Regions from separate parts of the Homo sapiens genome. Here all the other regions are linked to region 3. The links come from fine-mapping of genetic effects on gene expression. A gene starts in region 3. Each other region holds a variant in brackets. All regions are shown on one strand. Distances are from middle to middle. Region 1 overlaps PGPEP1L (pyroglutamyl-peptidase I like). Region 2 overlaps PGPEP1L (pyroglutamyl-peptidase I like). Region 3 holds the start of PGPEP1L (pyroglutamyl-peptidase I like).

Region 1 (8,074 bases), 41 kb before region 3:
TTCAAGAGAGGATGTTATTTAGACTGAACCTCTGTTGCCAGAGATGCTGAAGATACAGACCTTGGACAGGTCAGAGGGTTTCATTTTTGGCCTTCATCTTAGATGACTGGTTGCGTCATTTGGAGAAGTGAGTGCTCCTTGATGGTGGAATGACCGGGTGGTGGGTACAGAACCATTGTCACAGGGATCCTGGCACAGAGAAGAGTTACGAGCAGCAGGGTGCAGGGCTTGGAAGGAATGTGGGCAAGGTTTTGAACTTGATTGTTCTTGAAGCTATCAGACCACATCGAGGCTCAGCAGTCATCCGTGGGCATTTGGTTTCAACAAAGAAACCTAACATCCTACTCTGGAAACTGATCTCGGAGTTAAGGCGAATTGTTCAAGAACACAAACTACATCGCACTCGTCAGTTGTCAGTTCTGGGGCATGACTTTAGCGTTTTGTTTCTGCGAGAACATAACGATCACTCATTTTTATGTCCCACGTGTGTGTGTCCGCATCTTTCTGGTCAACATTGTTTTAACTAGTCACTCATTAGCGTTTTCAATAGGGCTCTTAAGTCCAGTAGATTACGGGTAGTCAGTTGACGAAGATCTGGTTTACAAGAACTAATTAAATGTTTCATTGCATTTTTGTAAGAACAGAATAATTTTATAAAATGTTTGTAGTTTATAATTGCCGAAAATAATTTAAAGACACTTTTTTTTTCTCTGTGTGTGCAAATGTGTGTTTGTGATCCATTTTTTTTTTTTTTTTTTAGGACACCTGTTTACTAGCTAGCTTTACAATATGCCAAAAAAGGATTTCTCCCTGACCCCATCCGTGGTTCACCCTCTTTTCCCCCCATGCTTTTTGCCCTAGTTTATAACAAAGGAATGATGATGATTTAAAAAGTAGTTCTGTATCTTCAGTATCTTGGTCTTCCAGAACCCTCTGGTTGGGAAGGGGATCATTTTTTACTGGTCATTTCCCTTTGGAGTGTAGCTACTTTAACAGATGGAAAGAACCTCATTGGCCATGGAAACAGCCGAGGTGTTGGAGCCCAGCAGTGCATGGCACCGTTCGGCATCTGGCTTGATTGGTCTGGCTGCCGTCATTGTCAGCACAGTGCCATGGACATGGGAAGACTTGACTGCACAGCCAATGGTTTTCATGATGATTACAGCATACACAGTGATCACATAAACGATGACAGCTATGGGGCACACAGGCCATTTGCTTACATGCCTCGTATCATGACTGATTACTGCTTTGTTAGAACACAGAAGAGACCCTATTTTATTTAAGGCAGAACCCCGAAGATACGTATTTCCAATACAGAAAAGAATTTTTAATAAAAACTATAACATACACAAAAATTGGTTTTAAAGTTGACTCCACTTCCTCTAACTCCAGTGGATTGTTGGCCATGTCTCCCCAACTCCACAATATCTCTATCATGGGAAACACCTGGGGTTTTTGCGCTACATAGGAGAAAGATCTGGAAACTATTTGGGTTTTGTTTTCAACTTTTCATTTGGATGTTTGGCGTTGCACACACACATCCACCGGTGGAAGAGACGCCCGGTGAAAACACCTGTCTGCTTTCTAAGCCAGTGAGGTTGAGGTGAGAGGTTTGCCAGAGTTTGTCTACCTCTGGGTATCCCTTTGTCTGGGATAAAAAAAATCAAACCAGAAGGCGGGATGGAATGGATGCACCGCAAATAATGCATTTTCTGAGTTTTCTTGTTAAAAAAAAATTTTTTTAAGTAAGAAAAAAAAAGGTAATAACATGGCCAATTTGTTACATAAAATGACTTTCTGTGTATAAATTATTCCTAAAAAATCCTGTTTATATAAAAAATCAGTAGATGAAAAAAATTTCAAAATGTTTTTGTATATTCTGTTGTAAGAATTTATTCCTGTTATTGCGATATACTCTGGATTCTTTACATAATGGAAAAAAGAAACTGTCTATTTTGAATGGCTGAAGCTAAGGCAACGTTAGTTTCTCTTACTCTGCTTTTTTCTAGTAAAGTACTACATGGTTTAAGTTAAATAAAATAATTCTGTATGCATTTCTGTCTCTGGTTTGGTTTTGTCCCTCCTGGAAGCATCACTACACTTTGGTGGCAGGGAAGCTGAGCTATGTGGGGCACGTGTGTTCACGCATGTTGCCTGGAAGCGTTCTCCAGAAAAGCATTGCCTCTTCTCTGACAGCTGAGCTTTCTCAGCATGCAGATTGCCAGTAAAGACGACAGGGAAGCTATCTGTTTCTCCCTCCATTAAATCATCTGGAAAGAAATTTGAATACATAAATTACGAAACTCTGTACTGCAGTTCCGACTGATTTGTAGACTTTTTTCCTATACCTTCCACTAACAACAGTCAGGCCAAGGCAAGTCTGATCTGCATGACCCCAAGGCAGAGGACTTCAGTTCTTCACATTTCCCATGTGCTTTTTGGTCTTTCACAGCTGACATGCCCACCTCGGGGGGATGCTGGTGAGAACCCAGTGGGCCTCACGCAGAATGTGGGTCACTGGAGGAGCTCCAAAGTCCTAGTTACTTTCTAGCTGCTGCTCAGTGATCTCTGTCTGCCCCTAGGGACCCTACAATGTAAACATTATTTTTGTCAGGGGAAATGGCATGTATGGCAAGGTGTGTTCTAGAATCAGACTAAGGATTCAGACACATCAGGCAGAGAAGCTGGTCATTTCCTTCAACTTTATCATGGGAAATTATGCTCCAATAGCAAAATCGGGCCAGTAGAAGAAGAGCTGTCCAGCAATGTATAGGTAGAAGTAAACCGAAGACCATGGTTACTTCAGACCTGTTGAGCCTCAGAAGTGTTTGCACCTAAAAGCAAAGGCCTTTCTGAAAGGGGACTCTCAGCTGGGGTGCGGTGGCTCACGCATGTAATCCCAGCACTTTGGGAGGCTGAGGTGGGTGGATCACATGAGGTCAGGAGTTCAAGACCAGCCTGGCTAACATGGTAAAACCCCATCTCTACTAAAAATACAAAAAATTAGTGGGACATGGTGGCGGGTGCCTGTAATCCCAGCTACTTGGGAGGGTGAGGCAGGAGAATCTCTTGAACTCAGGAGGCAGAAGCTGCAGTGAGCCAAGATTGTGCCACTGTACTGCAGCCTGGGTGACAGAGTAGGACTCTGTCTCAAAAAGGGTACTCAAGCTTGGCATTGCTTCAGGGTTACTGCTCAGTGTTGTCACCGAGTGCCTGGCACTCAGGGGATCTTCATTAGGTGACTGATGATGAGGAGGTCTCAATTCTGAGGCTGGAAAGCCCAACAGGGCCTCCTCCTTCCCTGGTCAGGTAGATGCTGCCCTTCCAGGTTGCCACAGTGCAGTCTGCACTTGGCCTGCCCAGCCAGAAGGAGCAGCAATATCTAAGGATGAAGGTGCTGGGTCTTCAGAAGCATTAGAACCTTTCCCCTCCAGGCCATTTCTTAAGACTGCAAGCCCTCAAGAGCTATTTCTGCATTTACCCCCCAAGTCCAGGTATGAGTCCATACTCACTCAGATGTGTGATTTTTGTAGTGTTCTAATGTTGCTAAAAAGACCTTCACATCCATTCTCTCACCAGATGTTCACAATCACCCTGCAAAGGAAGGATTTTAATTACTCTTACAGATGAGCAAACATACAGGCATGCTCAAGACCCCTCCCCCGCCCCCCCACCTCCCCACCAGCTACCAACTCAGGACTCAGCCTCTCAGCCTTTTCTGCTGTGGTTCTCAATCTGGCTTCAGCACTGCCAGAACTAAGCAGGCTCTGTGCATACTGACAAGGGATGCTGGGTGAAGTACACAGCCCAGGTGTGAATGAGACTTCTGGGGTTCTCCCTGGAGAACTTCAGGGGCCACAGCGGGGGGAAATGATGGGGAAGTTCTTGAAGAGGGAGCTCTGGGCCTCCCAACTGGATAATATCTAAAAATTTAAAAAATGTTATGGCATGCTGCCAGGCAGTCTGAAATATAACACTGGAGCCCAGTCCTGGGGGCCCCTTGCTTGCCAGTGTCCTGGGACAGAATTGCCCATAGCAGAGACAGATCTCCACATTAGCAACCATGCAGCCAGACCTGTGCACACCGCCCAGCACCACCTCCCCCCATCCCCCAATATGTGGGCTTTGATCTGTTTTCTAGCAAATGATCCAGGTGTACTTGCAAAGGGAGTCCCCTAAAGGCTACTCCAAATGCAAAAAGCGTGCTGGCGGCCTTGACTGCTTCCTTTGGTTTTCTTGTGGGTTTTTGTTTGTTTTTTTTTTTTTTTTTGAGACACAGTTTTGTTCTTATTGACCAGGCTGGAGTGCAATAGTGCAATCTCGGCTCACTGCAACCTCCGCCTCCTGGGTTCAAGCGATTCCCCTGCCTCGGCCTCCCAAGTAGCTGGGATTATAGGCACCCACCACCACACCCGGCTAATGTTTTTGTAATTGTAGTAGAGACTGGGTTTCACATGTTGGTCAGGCTGGTCTTGAACTCCTGGCCTCAAGTGATCCGCCCACCTCAGCCTCCCAAAGTGCTGGGATTATAGGTGTGAGCCACTGCGCCTGGCCTGGTTCCTTTGTTAGGAAGCTGCAAATGCTTTTCTTAATAGTGAATGAATCCAAACACTAACTGATGAATTTTTTAAATGTAGTCAAGTGAAAAATGGTAGTTGTAAGCACACCAACGTAACAAGAAATTTCCCAGAGCTCACCTACCTTCACTCACTTCCTCCAAAAAAAAAAAAAAAAGCGATGTTACCAATGGGACTCCCAAAGGAAATCTGCCCCTAGAAAACACTGAACAGGTAGAATCTTGCTGGGAGAAGCTTGGCACAAGACCCGGTGCTGTGTCATAAAAGCAAAACAAAACATGAAACAGAAAGGAGATTCTGCTTTTAAAAAGGGAAGACACCATGGAGAGAAGCTAAGCCCGGCTATTAACCTGCGCCTTCAAACCAAACACTACCAGTGTGACTGTAAAATGGTGCAGCCCCTGTGCAAAACAAAATGGCAGTTCCTTAAAAAATTAAACACAGAATTAGCATTGAATCCAGGAATTCACCTCTGGAGATTGACCTGAAAGCAAGGACTCGGATACATATTTGCACGCCAGTGTTTGTAGCAGCATGATTTGCAAGAACCAAAAGGAGCAAGTAACGTAAGTGTTCATCTACAGCTGAATGGATGAAATGTGGTCCATACATACACTGGAATATTATTCAGCCTTCAACAGAATGAAATCCTGTCCCATGCTACAACATGGATGAACCTGGAGGACATGAGGCTGAAATAATACGCCAGATGTAGAAGGACCAGCGCCGCATGACTCCCTCATATGAGCTACCTACAGTCAGATTCATAGGGATGGAGGGTGGAGTGGTGAGCACCAAGTGCTGGGAGGAAGAAGGAATAGGGAGTTAATAGGTACAGAGTTTCAGTTTGGGATGAGGAGAAAGTTCTGGAGATGGATGGTGGTGATGGTTGTACAACAAGGAAATGTACTGTATACTACTGAACTGTATGCTTGAAATTATTAAAATGAGTAGTAAAAGGGGCAAACACAGAGACAGAGAAATCATACAGTAGAGCCTCGGTGGCTTCGAGGCTACCCAGGACCTGGACACACAAGCTCAAAGGCCAGGAATGGGGTCCCTGGAGCAGCGGCTGTCTCTGTGCTTCTGTAAGCATCTCCAAAACAGGTCTGTGGTCCCCACAGTCTGCGCAGGATCACACAGACCCACTGTGTAGATTTTTGGAAGAAAACAGATGACTCGGATTTCATTTTATTGTCATGAAAACCATAACTGAAGCTAGTTCATCCCCTGTGAAATGTCCACCTTTCAGAGTGTTCTTTCTCCTGACAATAAAATAACCCTTTGTGATTTTGTTGGGCTAATTCAGAGTTTTCCACCCTCTTTGTCTTACAAGCAATTTTTGAAAAAGTTTCTCAATGCACAGTTGAGTGCTACATACAGGATTGAAACATTCAATTTTCTCTAGAGGAGCAATCCCCCGGTCAGTTCCCTTTGGCTGGAAGGACCATGGTTGAGTTTTCTTCGAACTGGGCTCTGTGCTTGGGCTTTCCCACCTCTTCCAGCATTTCCTGGATGATG[A/AC]CTCTCAAGGCTCTTCCCAGCAGGCTGGCCGGGAGCCCGCGCGATAGTGGAGGGACATGGATGAGTGCCGCGCAGCCCTTTCCATGATGCAGAGACAGGTAATAGGTATAATCACAGACGTATCTGCAACCACAGGAAATGCCACATTAATTCTCGGACCAGCCTCTAACCTCAGTGAAACATACGCAGAAGTGGCAATGCAACACCCACAAAGCCTGAGGAGGGAGCACTGCCACCCAAGGGAGACTTGTGTTGTTTCACCTCAGAAAGAACATGGTGCCAGGATGAGCTGGGGAGAGCTGGCTCTTGGCCTCATGGCCTCATGACCGGCAAGTGGCCAAGGCAGAAAGGGGTCAGATATTCCACAGCACCTGCATCCCAGTGAATCCCTCTCATTCATGTCTTCGTTGAGTCACTTACTCATTCATTCACTGGGGAAAGGGGAAAAACCACCTACTGGGGATCGGAGTTTGGAGAAACAAAGGTAAATCAATCTTTATCTGGGGCTACATCAACACAGTTAACTCACAACTTCGGTCACCCCAAAAATCAAAATCAGAAAACATTCACGAAATGTTAGTGGCTCTTGAAGTCTGCCTTCCCATCTCTTCTCCTAGATCAACACACCAAAGACCGTGTTTCCACAGGCAGGTCTCACAAACGAGACCTCAGGCAAGGTGTGAGCAACTGTGCTGGCCTGCACACAGCAAAGAGGGGCAATCTGGGGGCGGCACCGCATGGCCAAGTGGCCAGCTGGACGATACAGGATGGCTTCTTGGAGGTCGGGGGGACGCTGACGGCCATTGCTTCTCTCCTACCTGCTCAGAGTCCTGACACCCACAGAGCATACCTGCCTGCATCTCGGGAAAAGATCACGTCGACACCCTCCACAGCTACGCGCTTGCAGACTGCCTTCATGCAGACCCCTGACTCCAGCACGTCTGGGCTGCCAGGTAGGCACACGCCGCCCTCGGGCCAGAAGCTGCGGATGTCGGCGTCCCGGTAGCCTTGGTTCTTGCCAGACTGTTCCAGAATGATCGCCTTGGCGGCGGTGTCCATGCCCACATGCACGACGAGCTGTGTGAACGGGTAACAGCAGAGAGAACCCAGGAAAACGAGGCCCACCCTGCTCACCAAATGTGCAGAAGGGGCCACTCCTTTTGAGAGCCCGGCTCTGTGCAAAACATCTCAAACCCCAAATCCACTGGGAAACCCCAGGATCCCCCACCAGTGTCTCCTAATTAATATGGCTGGAAAGAAAAACAGCTGGATTCTTTTAGCTGAATAAAAACTCATGCTGCATTTACATTTAAATGCTTTTTACTTCAAATTATTCTTACAGGGTAATGTATTCTCTTTTTGTGGGGGGAGGGTTGGAGGGAGGAGAGGCAAGCTAGTAAGTGGTGAGGCTACCACAGCAGAGTCTTCGTGTTTTGGTGGAATCCTGAATCTTTTTATTTTATATTTTATTTATGTATTTATTTATTTTTATGAGACAGAGTCTGGCTGTATCACCCAGGCTGGAGTGCAATGGCACCATCTCAGCTCCCTGCAACCTCTGCCTCCCGGGTTCAAGTGATTATCCTGCCTCAGCCTCCCGAGTAGCGGGGACTACAGGTGCACCACGCCCAGCTAATTTTTGTATTTGTAGTAGAGATGGGATTTCACCATGTTGGCCAGGCTGGTCTCAAACTCCTGACCTCAAGTGATCCGCCTGCCTCGGCCTCCCAAAGTGCTGGGATTATAGGTGGGAGCCACCGTGCCCGCCTCCTGCATCTTTTTTTAAATGAAACTTTAATAAAGGAAGTTAGTGGCCATCCAGTGAAATCTTCTTAGAATTTATTCAAGCTGATTATTTTTCCTTTTTGAAAAATAGCTGCCCAAGTATGTTATCAAAACATCTGGGGCATTGTCTGAATGGCTTGATAGTGTATGTTTTATTAACCTCATCACATCTGGTCCTTGTTTGGGGT
Region 2 (5,000 bases), 29 kb before region 3:
CTTGTACACTTTAAAGGGTTAAAATGGTAAATTTAATGTTATACATCAATGTTATACATATTTTACCATAATTTTAAGAAAATTATGGCTTTCACCATCACCAACATTTTTTAACCTGACTAAAAAGTTTGCTCTGAACGAAGACTAAATCCGTAGTAAATCATTTAGCTCAGGCTAACATCCCTCAGGGATAATAATTAAGTTGGGATTTTAACTAAGCATACTCTTTTCCATATCTGAAAGCCTTCTAGAGTTCTATGGAATCACAATCTAAAAGTCATTTTCTCATATCACAACAATAAAATCTGAAGCCTAACAGTATTTAAGCTGCTGGTTTGCTGAAAATGTCTCAGGACTTGAGGTGTCCTGAAGAGAAATCATTATGGATGGCAATTATTCCCATATAAATGCTGTATTGCAAAAACCCAGATCAAAACATAGATGTTTTCCTAGGAACAGAAGAGGCAAGGAGGGGCAGTGGCCACTCCAGAATTTTCTGGTGGCTGAGGCCTGAGCACGGTGAGCTGGCTGGAGGAGGGCATGGTCTTGGTAAGGGAAGCTCATGAGTAGATTATGTTTACTTGCTGCATCTCAGAGACATGAGTAAAGACATGAAAATTTTAGTGGAGATAATACATTTTTACAGATTATTATTTTATTTCACTGAATTATCACAGCAACCTTTCAAGTTAACAAGAGGAGAAACAAGGAGGGCCTGGTCAACTTGGGCCTCATGCTCCTCACCTGTATAATGGGTACAACAATACTGTATCCACCATAATGATTATTAGGACCCTAGAGAGGTCAAGTAAAATGGCAAAAAAAAAAAAAAAAAAACAAGTCTGTAGTGACTTTGATAAGAGTAGTTTGAGTATGGAACCAGGCCTGGAGGCCAGGCCATGGTAAATATATTTAAAAGTTAATAGAAATGGTCTTTTATTTTTTTTCTTGATCAATCTAAATGAAGGTTTATCAATTTTATTAATTTTCTCAAAATATTAACTTTTGGGTTTTGGTTTGATTTCTATTGTTATATTTCTGCTACTTCATTGATTTCTGCTTTCATCTTTACTATTACCTTTCTTCTGCTTAGTTTAATTTGTTCTGTTAGTTTCTTAAGATAGAAATCAAAGTCACTGATTTGAGAACTTTCTTCTGCTATAATATTGTTTAGTGCCATAAATTTCCCTCTGATATGTTTTAATTTTCATTCATTTCAAAATGCTTGCTAATTTCCTTTTTATGTCTCCTTTCATCTCTGGCTTATTTAGAAGTATCTTGTTTGGTTTCCAAAATTTAGGAAATTTCCAGATGTCTGTTATTGATTTCTAATTAAAATCCACTGTGGCCAGAGAACACACTTTATGTGACCTGAATCCTTTTGAATTTATTCAGACTGGTTTTATGGCCCAGGGTATAGTCTCTGTCTTGGCAAACACTGCATATGCACATATGAGAGTGTGTTCCATGCTGGGTGGAGTGTTCTACAAATGTCAATGAGGTCTGGTAGGTTGGTAGTGTTGTTAAAGTCTGCTGTATCCTTTTTGGTCTATGTGTTCTGTCCGTTATTGAGAGGGGTACTGAAATCGTTGACTATTAACTGTGAATTTATCTATTCTCCTTAAAGTTCTATTAGTTTTTGCTGCACGTATTTTACAAGCACTGTTATTAGGAGCATGAATGTTTACATCTATTATGTCTTATTTATTGACCATGGTTCATTGAATGCTTAATACCTAATTGCTACACGACATTCTGACTCCACATTGTGAGCTCTAGAACACAGCTCTCAAGGGAGGTAAAGGTCAGGAATAGTCTTACAAGTGGGCAAAAAATAGGGTGAGCCCAGCAGGCTGTTGGCTGAGGGCTGCTGCCCAAAAGGCATCTTGTGGCTCCCCAACCATTTCCCCATCTCTTGGGGACCCAGTGCCTGAAATTTCACCTCCAGAGATCTTTTCGGTTCATTAGTCCCTGTCTAGATAATTTTGCAAATGCCTGCAAGAGAGGAAACACAGCAGCACACATGCTTCCCTGATGAAAGAGAAGGCGCTGTGTGTGAGCACTAGGGCCCAGAGTGGAACCCGAAACTGGGAGAGTCGGGGCACCCCTGAGAGGTGCAACTTCCCAAGGCTGGTCTGGGGTATGGAGTAATCATCTGTGATTACAGATGTCAGTGTAGAGTCCAGGGACCTAATTAATGGCATCTCAAACTGGCTCACAGCCTGCAGGCCCAGGCAGGCCTACTGG[A/C]TTTTGGAATCCCAGATTTGGCATCTGTAATGTAATGCTGACATTTTTCAAGATTTGTACCATGGAAGTGGATGTGAGGATGGAGATGAGAAAAGGTTTGCCCAGTAGACTTCCCTTTTTTGTTTTTTCCCCAAAAAAAACTGTGTAGAACGGAAAAGAACTAAGACTTATCTTCTGAATCCTGGACCAAATTAGACATTCTGCTGCCCTAAGTAACCTGCCTGATTTCCAGGGCCCCACTTATTTGTGTCTTTTTCTCTAGCATTAGACTGTGTATATATATATATATATATATTTTTTTTTTTTTTTTTTTTTTGAGGCACAGTCTTGCTCTGTCACCAGGCTGGAGTGCGGTGGCATGATCTCGGCTCACCGCAACCTCCGCCTCCCGGGTTCAAGCAATTCTCCTGCCTCAGCCTCCCGAGTAGCTGGGACTACAGGCACGCGCCATCACGCCCAGTTAATTTTTGTGTTTTTAGTAGAGATGGGGTTTTACCATGTTGGCCAGGATGGTCTCGATCTCTTGACCTCGTGATCCGCCCACCTTGGCCTCCCAAACTGCCGGGATTACAGGTGTGAGCCGCCGCGCCTGGCTACAGGATATATATATATATATATTTTTATTACATTTATGGCAGCACAAATATAGCCCCAATGCCCTCAAGATTCTGGTCTGGATTCTGTGAAACAAGATAAACAGGTCAGACTGTTTCCCATGCTGACAGAGTGCGTAACCCAGGAAGGATGTGATGGATTTCATCAAATCTAAGTCCCAGAGATGGAACATCGAGCATTACTGTACGAACCAGCAAGACAGTAAAAGTACTGCTCAACTATGACAAAGCATAAGATGCAGCTGCCTGTGAGATTCATCTGATTTCAGGATGCCAAAATTAAAACAAAAAAAAAACCAAAAAACACCTGGCTCTTTGCATCAATAAAATATGGTAGGCGATGAGTACAAGAACAGGAGGACATGCACATAGCAACACAGCACAGACTTCTATATATAAGTAGTGTGGTTATTTAATAAGTGCCCAACAATTTGCAATTGCAGAAATGTGAAACCAGCCCAAATTCCCATCAATCAATGAGTGGATAAAGAAACTGCGGTATATAGATAGGATGGAATACTACTCAGCCATAAAAAGAAATGTATTAATGGCATTTATAGCAACCTGGATGGGATTGGAGACTATTCTTTTTTTTTTTTTTTTTTTTTTTTTTTTTTTTTTGGAGACAGAGTCTCACTCTGTCACCCAGGCTGGCGTGCCATGGCACAATCTTGGCTCACCGCAACTCTGCCTCCCGGGTTCAAGCGATTCTTCTGCCTCAGCCACCACAGTAGCTGGGACTACAGGCGAGTGCCACCACACCCGGCTAATTTTTGTATTTTTAGTAGAGATGGGGTTTTACCATATTGACCAGGCTGGTCTCGAACTCCTGACCTTGTGATCTGCCTGCCTCGGAGACTATTATTCTAAGTGAAGTAACTCAGGAATGGAAAACCAAACACCATATGTCCTCACTCATAAGTGGGAGCTAAGCTATGAGGATGCAAAGGCATAAGAATGATACAATGGACACTGGGGACTCGATGGGAAAGGGTGGGAAGCAGGTGAGGGATGAAAGACTACAAATTGGGTTCATGTATACTGCTTGGGTGATGCTGCACCAAAATCTCACAAATCACCACTAAAGAACTTACTCATGTGACCAAATACCACCTGTTCCCCAAAAACTTATGAAAATAAAGAATAAATAAATGAAAAGTGTCCAACTTAGTCTAACTTTTAATACAGCTAAACACACAGCCATAAAAACAAAGTGTGGACTCGTGCCATTTCCCTTGGAGCAGAGAAACCTGAACGATCAGGGAGGCATTGTCCTAGGATAGTAAAGGGAGGAGGGGGGAGGAAAAGGTTTCAGGAGGAGACAGACTTTCAAAAGGAAACAAGCCATAGGCCAAAATATGAGAAATAAATATTCATGAGTCCATCCTGATCTAATGAAATGACTACATACATAAGTAAACAAATAAGTAAGTGGGTCCAGGAGGAGGACTCAGCTCTCTCATGCACTTGCACTCCCAGTAACCGATGTAACTCCTCTACCCTGAAGCAGAGAGGAACTCCCCCACTCGAGTGTGGGCTGCGCAGAGTTACTTCCTTCCAAAGAGGACAGGATAGAAGTGGGGACAAAAAGTAACTGTATGGTGGCCAGGTGCAGTGGCTCACGCCTGTAATCCCAGCACTTTGGGAGGCCGAGGTGGACGGATCACCTGAGGTCAGGAGTTTGAGACCAGCCTGGCCAAAAGAGTGAAACCCCGTCGCTACTAAAAATACAAAAATTAGCCAGGCGTGGTGGCATGTGCCTGTAGTCCCAGCTGTTCAGGAGGCTGAGCCAGGAGAATTGCTCGAACCTGGGGGGCAGAGCTTGCACTGAGCCAAGATCACCCCCACTGCACACTAGCCTCAGTGACACAGAGAGACTCCATCTGGAAAAGGAAAAAAAAAAAAATTAACTGTATGGTAGAGAGGCCTGACAAACACTCCCTCCACCAAGTAAGATCAAGGTCATCATGGACAGTGCTGTCACACTGATACTGTGTGCCCTTGATCTGACAGGATGAAAGTGACACTTTACCTCTGTCTTCCTCCCCCTAACCTCAGTCTGATCATGAGAAAAGCAGCAGAAAAGTCCCAATTGAGGAACAAACTATCAATTCCTGGCCAGACTCTTCAAAACCATCA
Region 3 (10,909 bases):
CCCAGCCTACATAAAATATTTGTAAAATAAAATGATTATACAGATGGAGAACAGACTAATGGTTGCCAGGTGTTTGAGATGGGAGGAAGCGGGTGGGTGTGGCTGTAAAGAGCTAGCACGAGTGAGCTTTGTGGTGATGGTACTGCTAGGTATCTTGATTGTGGTGGTGGTGATAGGAAGCTACACTAGCTGAAATTACACACACACACGCACACATACTGCAAGCACAAATTTTGAATTATACCAATGTCAATATCCTGGCTTTTATATTGAAAATGTTAATATGTCAATATCAGGAGAGGCTGGGTAAAGGGTACAGGGAACCTCTGTACACTTCTTGGCAAATTCCTATATTTATTTCAAAATAAAAAGTTTTAAAAAGTGTGTGGCCTCCTGTGTGGGAGACTAGCCAGTGCCAGATATGCCTGTGATGGAGTCAGGTGCTCAATTAAGTGGGCTGCAGATACAAGTGGAATTCTCTAACTCAGCTTTATCCCGGAGTACAGCTGAGGTTTTCAGTTCCACCTCTGATTCCTGTGACATTTCCACCTCTGATTCCTGTGACATATTTCTCAAGTCATTCATATTCTTTGATGAGGAAAGGGCTGTGACTAAATGTCAGTCTCTGAGAACCCAGCTCCCTGGACCTCAGGCCTTTAGACTAGGAACCAGTTCTGGAGAGAAACTTGAATTATACCTTTGCAATTCCTGAACATCTGGGTCTAGACCCACAAACAGGGTTGGCTCATGAGGAAGTAAAAACTTTCTGAGGGAATGAAACAGTTTTGGACAGAACGTCCCAAAAAGCCCATGGTGTCCTCTGATTCAACCAAATCCTTCAGAATAAATAAGACTTTAGCTGCCCTTGGAAACAGCCAGAAAAAAAAAAGGGCAGTTATAGAAAATAGTGAGATTAAAAAAAAAAAAAAGCACTGAGAAGCCAGGTACCTCCTGGGATAATAAAAATACAATAAAAATGCAGCAACACACACAAAAATCACATTCTGCTTTAGAATCATATTTGTATCAGCAAATATGACATCTCTTATCTGTTTTAAATTAGAAAAATCAACTCTGCAAGTGAAGGTTTGAAGCTCTTGTGTTTCAAGTTCAAACCTCACTTTAAACTTGGTCAGCCCCCAGTGCAACTTGCAAACGGAGCTGGAGAAATCTTAGAATTCTGAGAGGCCCGTGGGAGGGATGCACGTTTTCTCACTCTTGTGGTTATCGTTGGTGCCAGTCTGAACACTTTGATCTCGAAGCAATTTGTCGGAGCCCTCGTTCTCCCACCATCTGTCTACATGCCAATTGTCTTGAGGAGATTTACACACGAAGCAAATCCAATTAAATGAAGAGACTGCCCCTGGCAGCTCTAAGCATTTCTAACACAGGAAGGCCACGCTCTGGAATCCAGCGGGCATTCCCAAATCATGGCTGATTATCAGGTATTTCATCAAACAATTTCCAGTTTGCCAGCAAACCACAGGCTGACAAGACAAAGGCAGGGGTCAGTGTGATTCTAAGATGGTGCTTCAATGTTCATATTTCATTCATGACAAGCATTGCATGCATTAGAGTACAGTTTCCTTAGGAATTCAAGAGTAATTTGAACCATTCAATCTCCAGAACCAAAATAACACAAATAAGAGCAAGGGAGATAAAAGGTTTCCCAAAGAACTTTTTCTCTGAAGGTCGATAGGAGTTAGAATTATAGTCTGAAAAGATTAAGCGACACAACTTTCAATTTCCCATTCATCCAGGAAACCCTGCCTCTTCATCCAACACAATTCAGAAAACTTAAAACCGGCCAAATGTGTCTAACTAAAAATGAAGGCTGGACATGATGGCTCATGCCTGTAATCCCTGCATTTTGGGAGGCCAAGGCGGGAGGATCACTTCAGCCCGGGAGTTAGAGACCAGTCTGGGGAATACAGGAAAACCCTGTTTCTACTAAAAACTAAAATAAAATAAATTGGGGGGTGTGGTGGTGAGTGCCTGTTGTCCCAGCTACTCCAGAGGCTGAGGTGGGAGGATTACTTGAGCCCAGGAGTTTGAGGCTGCAGTGAGTTATGACTGAGCCACTGCACTCCAGTCTGGACAACAGAGGGAGACTGTCTCAGAAAAATTAAAAATATAAAAATAAAAATAGGGCCAGGCGCAGTGGCTCATGCCTGTAGTCCCAGCACTTTGGGAGGCCTAGGCGGGCAGATCACAAGGTCAAGAGATCGAAACCATCCTGGCCAACATGGTGAAACCCCATCTCTACTAAAAATACAAAAATTAGCTGGGCGTGGTGGTGCGTACCTGTAGTCCCAGCTACTCGGGAGGCTGAGGCAGGAGAATCGCTTGAACCCAGGAGGCGGAGGCTGCAGTGAGCTGAGCTTACGCCACTGCACTCTAGCCTAGCGACAGAACAAGACTCTGTCTCAAAAAAAAATTAATAAAAATAAAGACCTTTGTGAAGATCAGGCCCCCAGGGACCAGCTGGGATGCTGACTTGGTGAGGCAAGTGTGGGTGGGGGTGACTCTGGATGTGCTGGTGTTTGCAGGAGTGAGCAGCCACCATTCCTTCCAAGTTGACCTTCTGGGGCTCAGGGTCTCCAGCTAGTGGCTCTCGGGGGGTGCTTCACAGCTCCCTGAAAAATGGAAGTTCTTACTCTGGAAGTGGGGACTGTGTGTTCCTTTGCGGGTGGCTGTTGTAGATGGGTTTGCAAGCCTTGTGAGGGCCCTGTGGTTTCTGGGCGTATAGATCCCTCTTCCTTGCTATGAGCCTGCACCCCCAAGGGATACCTCACGTGCCTCGGGCCCCACTCAGGGAAAACAGGTACCAGCCTCAGCTTCCTCCCTGCTGGGTTGAAAGGCAAGGTCTGAGCCTAAGCCACCAGTGGCACCTTCGTGCCCGCCACTCGAGAGTTACTTGAAGCGAATGAGCCACAGAAGCAGAAATGCCTGTGATCCTGATTGTTTATTAATAGGGCACAGCAGCAAGTTCGTTTCCATCTGGAATTATTAGCACCACCAGTTGCCATTCTTTTTTTCCCTCAGGGAACTATTTAAGACCCAGGATCAGGCCAGTGCGCATTCCAGGGGCAGGCTAAAAGCAGCAACAAATAGGAGAGAAAAAAATTATGTAGTCTTACCAGTCACCACCACGCAGCTGGGCTGGGAATCCATGAAGACGAAGTGGGAGCTCGCGCTGCGCCTCCCTGGCTCAGGCAGCGGCCCAGCGGCCGGGCTCTGCGCGCTCTGAGCTCCGGGCACCTTCTCTGCCTGGCCGCGTGCTCGCCGGGGACCGGGGTGGAGCGGGAGCCCAACCCCTCCTGGCCGCCCGGCGTCCGTAGCGTTCTGGGCCCCGAAAGGCCAAGGATCTAGGGGAGGGTGATAAAGCAATGCCCCTTGAAAGCAGAACGATCCAGCTCAGGACAGCGGGTTGGAGCGCCAGCAGGGACTTTCTGGACATTTGAGTCTGGGTCACTTTGTTGTTCAGGATGGTTCAAAGGTGAGCTAAGGGTTTGGCTACCAGCTGTCCCGGTTTGCCTGGGACAGAAGGATGTCTGGGACGGAACACCACATGGTGCTCAAAGAGGTACTGTCCTAGGAACTGTGGGCTACCCTACAAGTCGTTTACTTAGATCTTATTTTTTCCTCTTTAGTAATCCCTGCCAGAGCCCCTCATTGTGTTTGGCCATTATGATTTGGTAAAATTTGATTGCTCTGAAAACTAATTCCACAAAATATGTGAGATGTGAGCAGAAAAAAAAGAGAGAAAACCATAGATGAATCTTATGGCGCCTGCCTTTAAAATATTGATTGCAAGCACCGCTGCCTAGGAGCTGTGGGTCCTCAGGGAAGTTAACCTCTGTGCTCAGGTTTCCTGTTTTGAGAAACGAGGATCGCAGCACCGGATCCTGTATGGATTCTTTCTGTGCCCCAGGCACTGTCCCCAGCTTCATCAGCCCTGAGGAACAGAGGCTTGCCACCTAGCTAGCGTCTGTGCAAGCTTGCTAGCTCTGTGCTCACCACCCTGCGTTCTACCTGCGAAAAGTGCTTTCTTGACACTGTGCTGGACTCCTTAAACATGCCACTGACAGTGAGCCACAGCCGTGGCATGCCACCTGGCTCTGCAGACAGTCCTCTTTTTAATGTGTCAGAATAACTGAAAAAGGCTAACATTTGAGGCTATTTCCTCTATCGAAAAAGCTGTTTTCCAATATCTTGATCTTTCGGAGAATTCTATTTAAAAACAAAACAAACTTTTGGCCAGGTGCACTGGCTCACGCCTTTAATTTCAGCATTTTGAGAGGCCAAGGTAGGAGGATAGCCTGAGGCCAGGAGTTCAAGATCAACCTGGGCAACGTGGCAAGACTGCATCAATTATTTTTTTCAAAACGTGGTATATGCCCATAGTCCTGGCTTCTCAGGGAGGCTGAAGCGGGAGGATCACTTGAGCCGTCAGTCGTAACTGCACCTCTGCACTCCACCCTGGGTGACAGAGTGAGACCCTGTCTCTAAAAATATTCTTAAACTTTTTTTTAAACTGAAAATACTTTTTTCCTGAAGCTGTATATTAAGAGGAAGAAGACCCATGATTCTCTGTCCCCATCTAGGTCTGGGGAGGAGAAGCTCCCTTCAGGGAAGCAGGCAGAGCCTCTCAAGCACCCTGCGGCCTCTAGAGAGCTCAGTGTGACAGCAGGACCACGTGGCTCCATCTGCTGAATTGTCCTCCTGATATAAAGCGCTCCCTTTTAATTGGGATCACCCCCGCGGATTAGACCCCCCTTGGTGGCTTTCTGGGATTCTGAACCAGGAACAATTCCCTTTAATTAGCTCCTGGTGTGGGCTGCAGGCCTCTTCACTGCCAACAGGTGGGAAGCGCCATTTGCTCCCACTAGTCTCCCACTCCCTGTCCTGAGAAGCTGGGCCCACCTTGCCATGAGTGGGATGCAGAGGATTTTTGTACTTTGCCTCATTTCACAGAAGTTACCCGGTTTCTCAATATACCCCGGATGCACTTGTAGACTTGGTCTCTACCTCCTCTGGTGAGCAGCTCTCCTAGCTCCTATCACTTACCTAGTTCCGTCATGGTGTGTCCAGAATCGGCGGATTCTTGGTCTCACTGACTTCAAGAACGAAGCCGCGGACCCTGGCGGTGAGTGTTACAGTTTTTAAAGGCAGCGTGTCCCAAGTTTGTTTCTTCTGATGCTCGCATGTGTTCGGAGTTTCTTCCTTCTGGCAGATTCGTGATCTCGCTGACTTCAGGAGTGAAGCTACGGACCTTCATCATGAGTGCTACGGCTCTTAAGGTGGCGTGTTTGGAGTTATTCGTTTCTCCCGGTGGGTCCGTGATGTGGCTGGCTTTAAGAACGAAGCTGCAGACCTTCACGGTGAGCGTTACAGCTCATAAAGGCAGTGCGGACCCAAACAGTAAGCAGCAGCAACGGTTATTGCAAACAAGCAAAACAACAAAACTTCCACAGCACAGAAGGCGACTCCAGCAAGTTGCTACTGCTACCTGGGGCAGCCTGCTTTTATTCTCTTATCTGGCCCCACCCACATCCTGCTGATTGGTCCATTTTACAGAGAGCCGATTGGTCTGTTTTACAGAGAGCTGATTGGTCCGTTTTGACAGGGTGCTGATGGGTGCGTTTACAATCCTGGAGCTGGACACAAAAGTTCTCCACGTCCCCACTAGATTAGCTAGATACAGAGTGTGGACACAAAGGTTCTCCAAGTCCCCACCAGAGTAGCTAGATACAGAGCGTCGATTGGTGCATTCACAAACCCTGAGCTAGACACAGGGTGCTGATTGGTGTGTTTACAAACCTTGAGCTAGATACAGAGTGCCCATTGGTGTATTTACAATCCCTTAGTTAAACATAAAGGTTCTCCAAGTCCCTTCCAGACTCAGAAGCCCAGCTGGCTTCACCCAGTGGATCCCGCACCAGGGCCGCAGGTGGAGCTGCCTGCCAGTCCTGTGCAGTGCGCCTGCACTCCTCAGCCGTTGGGTGGTCGATGGGACTGGGTCCTGTGGAGCAGGGGGCGGCACTCGTGGGGGAGGCTCAGGCCGCGCAGGAGCCCATGACGCGGGGGAGGAGGCTCAGGTATGGCGGGCTGCAGGTCCCGAGCCATGCCCCGCACGGAGGCAGCTAAGGCCCCGCGAGAAGTCGAGCACTAACAGCTGCTGGCCCAGGTGCTAAGCCCCTCACTGCCCGTGGCCGGCGGGGCGGGCTGGCTGCTTGGAGTGCGGGGCCCGCCGAGCCCACGCCCACCCGGAACTCGCACTGGCGCGCAAGCGCGGCGTGCAGCCCCGGTTCCCGCCCGCGTCTCTCCCTCCACACCTCCCCGCAAGCTGAGGGAGCCGGCTCTGGCTTTGGCCAGCCCAGGAAGGGGCTCCCACAGTGCAGCGGCGGGCTGAAGGGCTCCTCAAGTGCCGTTAAAGTGGGAGCCCAGGCAGAGGAGCCGAGAGTGAGTGACGGCTGCGAGGCCTACCAGCATGTTGTCACCTCTCAGTGGGGGCTTGGCTTCCTCTGCACAGTTAAAGGAAGAGATTGGACCATTAAGAAATGCCCACTTCTTCTTTTTTTTTTTTTTTCAGATGTAGTCTCGCTCTGTTGCCCAGGCTGGAGTGCAGTGGCGCGATCTCGGCTCACTGCAGCCTCCGCCTCCCAGGTTCAAGCAGTTCTCTCCCTCAGCCTCCGGAGTAGCTGGGATTACAGGCACCTGCCACCAGCCCTGGCTATTTTTTGTATTTTTAGTAGAGACAGAGTTTGACCATCTTGGCCAGGCTGGTCTTGAACTCCTGACCTCGTGATCCACCTGCCTCGGCCTCCCAAAGTGCTGTGATTACAGGCGTGAGCCACCGCGCCCGTCCAGAAATGCCCACATTTGTAAAGTTGGTTGCTGCTAGGGTCCAACTCTGCTATCAACATTCACCTATGAGGTCTGGGAATGGGAACTTGTGTTTAAGGAGACTCCTTAAGTGCAAAGACTGCCCATCTTTAACCATACTACTTTTCTGATAACAAAGCTGAAATTTTCATCATTTTTTTTTTGATTTGACAGGAGCTATTATTTTAACTAAACTGGAATGTGTCCTGCAGTTTTCACTTTCCCATAATTCACTTATTTTTTTCTGTTCTAAAGTTTTCTCTAATTTTGAAATTAATAGAAAAAACAACACAAAATATTTTACTTAGTCACAGTGATATGTCTATTTTTGTATTCATTCACCTCCCCTCTCCCCACACAAGAACCCCCCAGCACATTCCTACTTTCTGGAATGAAAATAGCTCTGAGAAGTATGGATTTTGAGGTTCAACATCTGCACTTTTATTTCTTTTTCCATTGTAAAAACAAATGGTCTCTAATAATTGATGTCAAACACAGTCTTTAGGCTGATGAAATACAGTAAGCCTGAGAACGAATAAGGCAACTAAATGGAGCTGTTTTATTTAACAGAGAGCACAGTGATCTTCCTTACAAGCGGGATTCCCGAGAGGAAAATGTTTGTAATCAGATTTGACTCTAGGATTAAGAGGGCAAGGTGCGACCCTCTTAGTGAACCGGAAAGTAAGCAACGGTACACAAGTGTTCTCACCAGGGACAGCAAATGGGAGTTGCCAAGATTACAAGATCCCAAGACCTCAACTATTTCACGTGCTGAACTAAACTCAAAACTTTGTGGGATTTGTTTTAAATTTCTCATTGGCAAGTGGTGACTTCCTGCTCTCGCAAGAAAAAAGATTAAAGGGGTTTGTTTACTGTCTCTGACACAAACAGCTCTTACAACACATTTTGTACACTTGACATAAATGAAATTTAATCAAACTGGTCAAATTCCTTTGGGAGGTGGGGAGAAAATAAATCAATCAGCAAGAAGCACTTGTGATTTCCAAAATAATGATAACATAAGTCTTTCTCCATGTCAAACATCACTGTTTCCAGATAAGCGACTTAGCTCTACTATAAAACACAACCCATAGCCAAATTGCTTCTTGTCAAAGCACTAAGGGATCCTCCAATAATGTCACTCTACCAAGGCAGATTCAGAACTCACCCTCCTCTATACCTCTGCCTCTGCAGCTTTGTACCCCAGCAGGGGCCAGCCAGCACACGATTTCTGAAAAGGGCCATAAAATAAATGAATAAATGTAGTAGACTTTTTTTTTTTTTTTTTTGAGACAGGGTCTCACTCTGTGGCCCAAGCTGGAGTGCAGTGGTGCAATCTCGGTTCACTGCAACCTCCGCCTCCCGGTTCAAGCAATTCTCGTGCCTCAGCCTCCTGAGTAGCTGGGATTACAGGTGTGCACCACCACACCCGGCTAATTTTAGTAGTGCCTGTAGTCGCAGCTAATCGGGAGGCTGAGGGAGGAGAATGGCGTGAACCTGGGAGGCAGAGCTTGCAGTGAGCCGAAATCGCATGCTGCACTCCAGCCTGGGCGACAGAGTGAGACTCTGTCGCAAGGTGATATTTCTGTTACATTTTGTAGGAGAAGGATTTGTCTTTATTTTTCTTCTGTCTTATATTTTTCCCTCAGACTTTTGCTAAGCCTTGATCACTTTTTTTTTTAGGGACTACAGCTCCTTGACTGCAAAGTAACAACTGTTGCAAAAGGAAGTTTTCTACTTGTTAAAATCCAGTAGCTTGTTACCCCTATTGTTTAAATACTGGATTTTTCTTTCAAATTTCACAAATATCTTAGGAATGACTGGAACATTTGTGTTCTTAACACTGAGGAAATTCCTGTGTAGACAAATGAGGCCAGATGGAGGGTGCAGCAGAGAGCTTAATATCCTCTTGGAATGGAAGAGGGGCCACACTAAAACATGCACCAGGCCTTCGAGGGGCCGCTATTTTCCAGTATACACATGTAAGAGGCATTTTTCTTTTTTTCTTGACTGGGGCCAAAGGTAACTTTCGTGTCAGAAGTGAGTGCTAAGTGGCTGAGTAGGTTTGAGGAAGGCTTAGCGATCCAGCTTATTTATAGACAATCCGATTATAATATTTATGATCATTGATTTTTAAAAATTACTGGACCTCTTAAAAATGGTTAGATATGAGACTGGTATATACTGAAGCTAATAGCTTTCTCTTTTTAAAGAGATAGTGTTTCTCTCTGACGACACACAGGCTGGAGTGCAGTGGCACTGTCAGAGCTCACTGCATCCTCAAACTCCTGAGCTCAAGCGATCTTCCTGCCTCAGCCTTCTGTGTAGCTGGGACCACAGGTGTGTGCCACCATGCTTGGCTAATTTTTCAATTTTTTTTTTTTTGTAGAGATGGAGTCTTGCTATGTTGCTCAGGCTGGTCTTGAACTCTTGGCCTTAACCAATCCTCCTGCCTTGGCCTCCCAAAGTGTTGGGATTACAGGTGGGAGCCACCTCTCAGGGCCTAAGAGTTTTCTTATATATCAGCAATAACTAATTCTAATGTAATTGGAGAAAAGAGCCCATCCACAATGCCCTTCAAATATCAGAAATCTCTAGGAATAAACCTGGCAAGAAATGTATGAGATCCTTTTGTGGAAAACTGTGGAACTGGCGGGGTGCGGTGGCTCACGCTAGTAATCCCAGCACTTTGGGAGGCCGAGGCAGGTGGATCACCTGAGGTCAGGAGTTCCAGACAAGCCTGGCCAACATGGTGAAACCCTGTTCTCTACTAAAAATACAAAAATTAGCTGGGCGCGGTGGCTCACGCTAGTAACCCCAGCACTTTGGGAGGCCAACGCAGGTGGATCACCTGAGGTCAGGAGTTCCAGACAAGCCTGGCCAACATGGTGAAACCCCATCTCTACTAAAAATACAAAAATTAGCCAGGTGTAGTGGTTCATGCCTGTAATCCTAGCTACTTAGGAGGCTGAGGCAGGAGAATCACTTGAACCCAGGAGGAGGAGGTTGCAGTGAGCCGAGATCGCACCATTGCACTCCAGCCTGGGCAACAAGAGTGAAACTCTGTCTCAAAAAAAAAAAAAAGAAAAAGAAAAGAAAAAAGAAAAGAAAACTGTGGGACTTTAAGAAAAAAACATAGAAGACCCGAATAAAACAAAGGATGCCATGTTCTGTAATGGGAAGATTCGAAACTTTAAAAATGTTAATGCAAACCGATGTTAAAGACTAGATGCAACTGGCTTGCCTTCCCAGATATCCAAATATATGCTAAAAGCTAGGGTAATTAAAATAGTGCAGTGTTGTTGTAGAAATAGGAAAACTGTCAATAAAACAGCTAGAATGTGTATGAGAATTTAATATATAGTTAAAGAGATAATTCAAATTAGTAGCGGAAAGAATATACCATTTAATGGTGTGGGAACCATGAGATATAGCTAGATCCATTCCTTATGCCATATAGGTCAGTAAATTATGATTGGATTAAAATTCAAATCTGAAAATCAAGACAGTAAAAATACTGGAAGTAAATTTAGAAGAATTATTTTCTAGTTTTGGAGTAGTTTCAAAATACTCATGCGAGACGCAAAACTCAGAAACTAAAAGGAAAAGAGGAGGTATTTGACTAATACTGACTTTGGATATAGGAGTTGAATGAGAAGCAGGGAACTTTTCAGTTCATTATTCTTTATATATACTGTATACACACACACACACATACATATTTTAAAAGAACTGTTCAAGCTCTATACATGTAATTTTTTTTTTTTTTTGAGACAGAGTCTCGCTCTGTTGACCAGGCTGGGGTGCAGTGGCGCGATCTTGGCTCACTGCAAGCTCCGCCTTCCGGGTTCACACCCTTCTCCTGCCTCAGCCTCCGGAGTAGCGGGGACTACAGGCGCCCGCCACCACGCCCGGCTAATTTTTTTTGTATTTTTAGTAGAGACGGGGTTTCACCGTGTTAGCCAGGATGGTCTCGATCTCCTGACCTCGTGATCCGCCCGCCTCGGCCTCCCAAAGTGCT

The links. PIP is the estimated chance that this variant, and not a neighbour inherited with it, causes the effect.
Region 1: its variant is the best candidate, but not a certain one, in a credible set for the expression of PGPEP1L in esophagus muscle (GTEx, PIP 0.56).
Region 2: its variant is the best candidate, but not a certain one, in a credible set for the expression of PGPEP1L in atrial appendage (GTEx, PIP 0.88).

The regions. Positions count from the first base shown.
Region 1 is chr15:98,962,474-98,970,547 of GRCh38, forward strand. It overlaps PGPEP1L (pyroglutamyl-peptidase I like), which reads right to left. Exons shown (of 5, transcript NM_001167902.2): 4 at 6,952-7,178; 5 at 5,756-6,224. The coding sequence starts at 7,160. The coding sequence ends at 6,005. It overlaps IGF1R (insulin like growth factor 1 receptor), which reads left to right. Exons shown (of 21, transcript NM_000875.5): 21 at 1-2,057. Among named protein-coding and RNA genes, the nearest start is that of PGPEP1L, 41 kb to the right of the region's middle. The variant A/AC (reference allele first, on the strand shown) is at 6,102.
Region 2 is chr15:98,976,186-98,981,185 of GRCh38, forward strand. All of the region lies in intron 2 of PGPEP1L (pyroglutamyl-peptidase I like), which reads right to left. Among named protein-coding and RNA genes, the nearest start is that of PGPEP1L, 29 kb to the right of the region's middle. The variant A/C (reference allele first, on the strand shown) is at 2,248.
Region 3 is chr15:99,002,289-99,013,197 of GRCh38, forward strand. PGPEP1L (pyroglutamyl-peptidase I like) reads right to left here and starts at 5,504. Exons shown (of 5, transcript NM_001167902.2): 1 at 5,071-5,504; 2 at 3,141-3,368.